Linked DNA regions of Homo sapiens. The protein of the gene in region 1 interacts with the protein of each later gene in a pairwise test. Each region holds a gene or a part of one and is shown in the gene's direction. Other genes may lie near its edges. The genes, in order: TBX20 and ZSCAN1.

Region 1 (3,820 bases):
GATTTTAAAACCCAGCCTCATAGCTTTTCTTTAATGACTAATTTTTGTTGTTTATGTTTAATGACTAATTTTTGTTGTTTAATGACTAATTTTTTGTGATTGATTGAAAGTTTGTATCAGAGCTAAGAACTTATTTAAATGTACAGATTTGGGAACTGTTAAGTTACGGCTGGTACTTTGTGTCTAGTCTGGAGTCATAGTCAAGGCAGAGAATCAACAGACAATTACACATATGGTTCAGATAGAATATTCAGCTTAATTAGTAGTTTATTATATTATTGAGTTTATCGTATGCTAAGTGCACTAGAAAAGAGATTAAAAGCAATCTCTCAGAGTTTTCCATTCTCGGAAGAGACCAGAAAGGGCGTCTTCCCAGCCCTTTCAAATCAGTATATTAAATAACAGTCAAGACTAAGAAAATCTAAAAAACAATTGCTATTAGTTTTTTTTTAGTTGAGCAAGATTCACCAGTTTATAATAGATATTAAAATTAATAAAATTAGTGTTCTCTTCTATTTACTGTTAAATAGTTTACTATTATTCTTTAGCTACCTTCCAAACTTTTCAATACCGTTTTAAACCTGAGAGAGTATTTTGGCAGATTCCTAACCATTTTCTACAAGCAAACCCTCTTTTTTTTTTTTTTTTTTTTTGCCCTCCAGTCTTTCCTCTAAGAAGTTAATCACTCTTATTAAACATACATTTTCTTCCTATCTGAAGGTATGGGGAGCTGATGCAGGCCAGCAGGACTTTGGAAATATGACATGCCTTGTTTATGTTACTAATCTGTTCTGGTTGGAGAAAAAAAGTGTGTACCAATACACTATCTTAACTGAAGCATGTTTAAGCTATTGCTGGAATTTTAAGTCTCTGGGGGACTTGAGAGGAGGGGCTTCCTGTATATTTTTTCATTAATCCTAGTTCAGCTTTTTTAGATTGATATTAAATAAAAATGTTTAGCTTATTATGGGATAAAAAATAGATAATTTAGCAACTATTCTTTATTATTATTAAAATAAATAGTTTGCTACTTATCTATCTCCATAAGAGAAAAACGAAGAACTTGGGAGATGATAATTTTTATACTGATGGCAAAAATTTCCCATGGTTTTAGGACTTTGAAGCATTTTAGTTCAGGCTGAAGTTCATTGGTCAGTCATTCCTAATCGGAAGAAATAATGCTTGACAGTATCACTTGATTGTAATAATAAGCAAGATATTACTTATGATCTAAAATAATGTTACCTTTTCATATAGGACATCTCCTTTTCTTTAAAGTACATAATATTTAATTACATTAATATTTTATTAATAGCCATTACATGTGGTGAATGTGATCCTTAGAGAGGGAACATTTCATCAACTTTAGGACTTTAAATAATTTTGGACTTTTTTAGAGGGAGGAATGTGGTTCTGATCAGTAAAACAATTGCACCTATAAAGCTACAGTCTTGGAAGGATGGTACTTGAAAAGTGGTTGTGTTATCAAAGAATAATTGAAAGGCAACTGTGAGCAATCCTCCTAAAAACAGTGGAATTAACAGGCAGACAAATGCCTGAAGCCTTTACAGTTCCTCTGTAGGTCTGGTAAGAGTCTTTGGTGCTGTCAACCTTTTTTGTGCATTGCTCCTGGTGGGCTTTGTAAGTTTCAGCATTTGTACAGAATTCTTCTATTCGTAGTCCTCTGTGTGACAAACCATGGAACAGATTTCTTGTTCTTTACATGAATAATGCAAGAAAAATTTTATGACTTCTTATCCCTTGCTTTTGCCCTAGTAAAAATATTTATGTTTAATTGTAGTTATAAGGATCCTATATAAAATTTAGGTGTAAATAACCTTTTACGTGGATAAAGGAATTTGTCCTATTAAATCAAGGATTTTGCTTCCCCTTCATTAGTTCTGTAGTCTCTCTCTGACTTCAGAAAGACTTAAGTCAAGAAGATACCAGGATGGGGACTTACAAAGAGCTGCATTTAAGGCGTTGTCACAGGTAGAAAAAGTGACCTGCATTTAACTGTGAGTGCGTAAAAGATGTGAGAGCTTTTTTTTGGCTTACACTGTTTACAGATAAATAAATTGAATAATGTGAAGTGTGTCTAGCTTGTTTTAACTCTCATTTAGTGAGCACATAAACAGATAATGATGAAAGCAGTAGTGTTTAATGTAACAGGAAGAACAGAATCCTAGCTGATCGGTGGACTACTGGGAGTTCTCCATGTCCCTATATTAAAATTGCTCCATCTTATATTTACAAAGAACACAAACTTTAAAACTTTAAGTTTAAATAAATGGATTCTCTAAAATTATTTTCTCTTTTAAATTATTTATGTTTTCACTGTTATTTAAGAGATGTTTATAATAGGAACTCATGCGATTAGTGTAAGCTAGTTTTTCTTTTGAAAGCACCTTCAACAAGAAGATTTTGCGTTTGATCGAAGCAGACCAGTAGTTGACTAGATAGATGAAAACACACACACACACACACACACACACACACCCCTTTAAACAATGCCTTGCTCAGCTTTTAATAGAAAATTTGTTAAGTATTATCTCATTTAGATAATTGGTACATGAAGAAATAATTAGACATTTTTCAGTTGTTTTGACATTGCAATAGTAATAAATTTGAGGTATATAGGGCAATAAAATTTCCCACTTATATATGGTTTATGTGTTCCCTTAGAATTAGAACATTTTATAACCTACAGAGACAGACTTTTTAAAGAAGTCTCAATAAAGTTTTCTCCTAATTTTCTTAGGCTCTATGTGCATCCAGATTCTCCTTTTACCGGTGAGCAACTACTCAAACAGATGGTGTCTTTTGAAAAGGTGAAACTCACCAACAATGAACTGGATCAACATGGCCATGTAAGTACCATGCCTTGGACTGTGCAGGTTCCCTGAGGTAGAATGGACAGGTCGCACAAAACTGTCTCTCTCTGAGTCCCTTCCTGCCTTCCCTATCCCCTTCCCACCTTCTATCTCTGAGTCATTTTATGGGAACATTTATGTGTTCTTCAGGGGACCTTGACTGATTTTGTAATAGGTCATTTACGGGAATGCTGTGTGCCATTTCTATGCAAGAAGGTCAGGGATCTTCTGTTCCATGGAATTCCTAAGGCTTCTGAAATTGCTGTACCACCCGAGCCAACTAAACTAAGGGAATATACATTTTTGGAGGCTGCTACAGCCTGTTGTTGGGTTAAGCATCTAATTTCTGTCAGCAGCATAGCAGATAATAAAACTTAGAGAGAATAGGGCTAGGACCTCTGATGGGGGTTTCCCAAAGTGTAGTCTATAGAACATATGTATGTGAGATGAAATAACAAAAGGATTTTATGTCCAAATCAGTTTGGGAAAGTGCTGTTTACTCATTATGTAACCATTTTTTTTTGGAGAGTTTCATGAATATTAAAGCATAAAGAAGCCCTGTAATTAAAAACAAAACAATTTGATTTTGTGTCAGTATAAAGTTTATGAAAATGTGGAAAAAAGAAAAATTAACTCTGTGTTCTTATCAGTAGTTTAATAGAACAAATAGTCAATGATGCAGGTCCTTACATATTTGATAAAATGCCTTTTTAAGGCATTGCTGGGATGTTACTTCATGCTGTTAAATAAAGATACACATAAAAATTCTGTCTTAGATTTTATGCTAAGAAAACTTTAGATGGACTTCCATAATTTTTTTCTTCTTTTAATAATTTTTAATTGATACATAATAATTGTACATATTTATGGGGTACATGTGATATTTGGATACATATATACAATGTGTAAGGATCAAATCTATGCAATTTAGAGGAAGTGTTTGAAGA
Region 2 (3,820 bases), on another chromosome or scaffold:
GTTTCGGTGAGGAGGAAGATGGGAAGAGTCCAAGGTCCCAGAAAGAACCATCGCAGGTGAGCCCGGGGCCCCCAGCTCCGTGCTCCTGCACCCCAGGGCATGCGTGCCGCTTCTGGGACGGCCTCAAGGATGCCCCATCCAAGGACTGTGTGAGGTTGTCCCCAGCGCTCCCAGGAAGCCCGGCCTCCAAACTCCCCGCCTGCCCCACAGATTCCCCAAGCTTCCTGGGGCTCAGTGCTGGGCGAGGGCAGTCAGTGCAGCTGTGTGTTTGCTGTGTGCCTCTGGGCCTCACCCCAGCCCCTCCTGTCCTTTCCCAGCCTCGCAGTTAAGACCCATCCTCCTGTGTCACCCGCACCAGATGCTGCGTGTGTTGAGAAAGTCCTGCTGCCCCGATCATCTTCCCTCAGTGAACCCAGGATTCTGGGCGGGCCCAGAAGGAAATGCTGAGGGCTCCCCTGCAGCTAGACCTGCTGTTGCGCAGGCCTCAAGGCGACGGGAGGGGCCCGGCTCGGTTGGGAGCCAAGCGGATCTCTGTGTGGCTGGAGAGATTAAAATCAGGGGTGGGGACACGCAGACACATGAGAGAAATCCAGGGGTAATGGGTAAATCACAAAAGAACAAAAGTAAGAACTGCTAAGTGAGTAGCATGTGTTCGTATGATCAGGGCTACTGAGTTTGACCACTTTCTGCCTCTGGATCTTGGTATTGGAGCCGCCAAGGGAAACACAGCACGGTCGAACAATGAATGGAGCAAGGTTTTGCTCACAGACCAGAGACCGGGCCAGAGCACCATCTGCCCATGTGGCTGTCAGGCCGGGGCCAGCAGGTCCCTCCTAGAGGGGTCCTGACCTAACAGTGGGGCTGTCTAGGTGCCACGTGAAGCACACGCCTGAGCAGAACAAAGGGGCACACATTGGGAAACAGAGACCTCCACACGAGGCACTACACCCAGCACAAACTGGGGGGACCCCTTATCTCTTGGTAAGGAGATGTTCTAGGCCCAGGACCCACTCTCAGGCAGCCAAGTAACAGGCTGAAAGACTGCACATGTGTGTCTCCCACTGGCTTAGTCCGTTCTGGGTGCTGTAACAAAATACGGCTGGGTGTGGTGGCTCATCCCGGTAATCCCAGCACTTTGAGTGAGGCCTCACGGGAGGCTGAGGTGGGAGGACCACTTGGTCCCAGGAGTTCAAGAGCAGCCTGGGCAACATGGCAAGACCCCATGTCTTAAAAAAAAATGAGCCAGGTGTAGGGGTGTGCACCTGTAGTCTTAGCAACTCTGGAGGCTGAGGTAGGAGGATCACTTGAGCCCAGGAGTTCAAGGCTGTAGTAAGCTATGATCATGTTTCTACACTCCAGCCTGGATGACAGAGTGAGACCCTAACTCAAAAAACATCAACAGCCGGGCACAGTGGCTCACGCATGTAATCCCAGCACTTTGGGAGGCTGAGGCAGGCGGATCACAAGTTCAGGAGTTCAAGGAAGAAGGAAGTAACTTGTGGAATGCTGAGAAAGGTAAAAACACCTTCAAATAAGGAAGAGGAACAGGCTATGACCTAATGCTTGCTTGGACCAGTATAGGCACACCAGGGCAAATATTTAGGCTAAATTGTGGGAGCTAAGAACATAAAGTACATTGATTTTTTTTATTATGGCTAGCAGATATATAAGAATGTTAGCACAGGTCTTTGAATAAATTTTGCTTCTAAGAGAAGTTACTATTTATTCCTAATTAGATGGGGAGGAAAGTCTTTGAAGAGGAACTTCTACTTTACTTTTTTTTTTTTTTAATGGAGTCTTGCTCTGTAGCCCAGGCTGGAGTGCAGTGGCGCGATCTCGGCTCACTGCAAGCTCTGCCTCCCGGGTTCACGCCATTCTCCTGCCTCAGCCTCCGGAGTAGCTGGGACTACAGGCGCCCGCCACCTCCCCGGCTAATTTTTTTTGTATTTTTAGTAGAGACGGGGTTTCACCGTGTTCACCAGGATGGTCTCGATCTCCTGACCTCGTGATCCACCCGCCTCGGCCTCCTGAAGTGCGTGAGCCATCGCGCCCGGCCCTAAAATAGATTTAAAGATCATCATGAGAGCCCCTCTCCTGCACCAAAACAAAGTTTCGTGGGCCGTGGTTTCTGTTTCTGCATCTAACGGAGGCATCTAACCTGGGTAGACCACAGTTGTTGGCCACGGGCTTCCTCAGCCGCTGCCGGCAGATGTGCTTATCTGACTCCCTCTCCCATCCCAGACGCCACGTGGAAACCACAGCCGCGCTCACAGGCCATCCCCTCACCACACGGCAACTCCAAGGACTCTCTTTTTGCGGGGGTCGTAGGTGGGGAAGGCTGCTGAGGTCCTCCCACCCCTCTCCCACCAGGGCCGCTGTGGCTGAGAGGATCCTCGTTGGCGCTGGTTTAGGCTGTGGGGCTCAGCCACAGCAGGGTGCCCCAACGTCCCTGAGCGAGCTGCACTTGTGGAGGGAGAGGCCTTAGGCCTGAGGCCTGGCGCCCGCGTGGAGAGACGGCAGCTCCGGGATCGGGGCGCTGGTGAGCGCGGCCCCAGGCATTGCCGCTGCCAGGGTGCTAACACTGCCTGAGGCACCTCTGCTTTTGAAGTCGCCGGGGATTAGCGGGAGCGTAGGTGAGGGACAGGTGGAGCTGCTCTGCGCGGGGCAGCCCGGCTCGCCAGGAGGCGCTGTGGAGTGGGCACGACTGGCGATCGCTGAGCGCATACAACCGCCTACCATCGGAAGCCTTTTGAGAAATGCTTCCTTAGGCGGTTTCGTCACCGTGCATACATCGCAGAGGGCACTCACACACCTACACGCACAGCCCATGGCTCCTAGGCTACAGACCTGCACAGCACGGGGCTGCACTGAATACTGTGGGCAACGGTAACACAATGTTGTTTGTGGATTTAAACATAGAAAAGGTACAGTAAAAATACAAAATAGAAGATAAAAAACAGTACACTTGTATAAAGCACTTGCCAGGAAGGGAGCTTGTGAGACTGGAAGTTGCTCTGGGTGAGTCTGAGTGGTGAGTGAATGTGAAGGCCTGGGAGGTTATTGTGCTGTGGACTTCATAAACATGGTGCACTTAGGCTACTAAATTGGCAACTATATTTCCTTCTTCAATATAATTTATCTTACTGTAAGTTTTTGCTTTACATTTTTTTTTTCTTTCTTAGACTGACTCTCACTCTGTCACCCAGGCTGGAGTGCAGTGGCACGATCATGGCTCACCGCAACCTCAACCTTCTGGGCTCATGCGATCTTCCTACCTGAGTCTTCTGAGTAGCTGGGAACACAGGCACACATTACCGCACCGGCTAATTTTTATATGTTTTAAAATTTTTTTAGTTTTTGTGTAGATGGGGTTTCACTATGTTGCCCAGGCTGGTCTCAAACTCCTAGGCTCAAGCGATCCTCCCTCCTCAGCCACCCAAAGTGCTGGAATTACAGGCGTGAGCCACTGTGCCTGGCGTAAAAAACTTTCTGACTCTTGGGGCCGGGCGCGGTGGCTCACGCCTGTAATCCCAGCACTTTGGGAGGCCGCGGCGGGCGGATCACTAGAGGTCAGGCCTTCGAGACCAGCGTGGCCAACATGGTGGAACCTCGTCTCTACTAAAAATACAAAAAAATAGCTGGGCGTGGTGGTGTGCACCTGTAAGTCCAGCTACTCCGGAAGCTGAGGCAGGAGAATCGCTTGGATCCAGGAGGCGGAGGCTGCAGTGAGCCGAGATCACGCCATTGCACTCCAGCCCGAGCAACAGGAGCGAAACTCCGTCTCAAAACAAAACAAAACAAAAAACAACCTGTGTCATTT

The links.
Region 2: the proteins of TBX20 (region 1) and ZSCAN1 interact in a two-hybrid assay, tested with the Homo sapiens proteins (one large-scale study listed by BioGRID and IntAct).

Annotation. Positions count from the first base shown.
Region 1 is NC_000007.14:35,243,999-35,247,818, reverse strand, and holds part of TBX20 (T-box transcription factor TBX20), read left to right. Parts: intron 1-654; exon of another isoform or gene 655-2,018; intron 2,019-2,761; coding exon 2,762-2,870; intron 2,871-3,820. UniProt on the Homo sapiens protein: Acts as a transcriptional activator and repressor required for cardiac development and may have key roles in the maintenance of functional and structural phenotypes in adult heart.
Region 2 is NC_000019.10:58,040,489-58,044,308, forward strand, and holds part of ZSCAN1 (zinc finger and SCAN domain-containing protein 1), read left to right. Parts: coding exon 1-56; intron 57-3,820. UniProt on the Homo sapiens protein: May be involved in transcriptional regulation.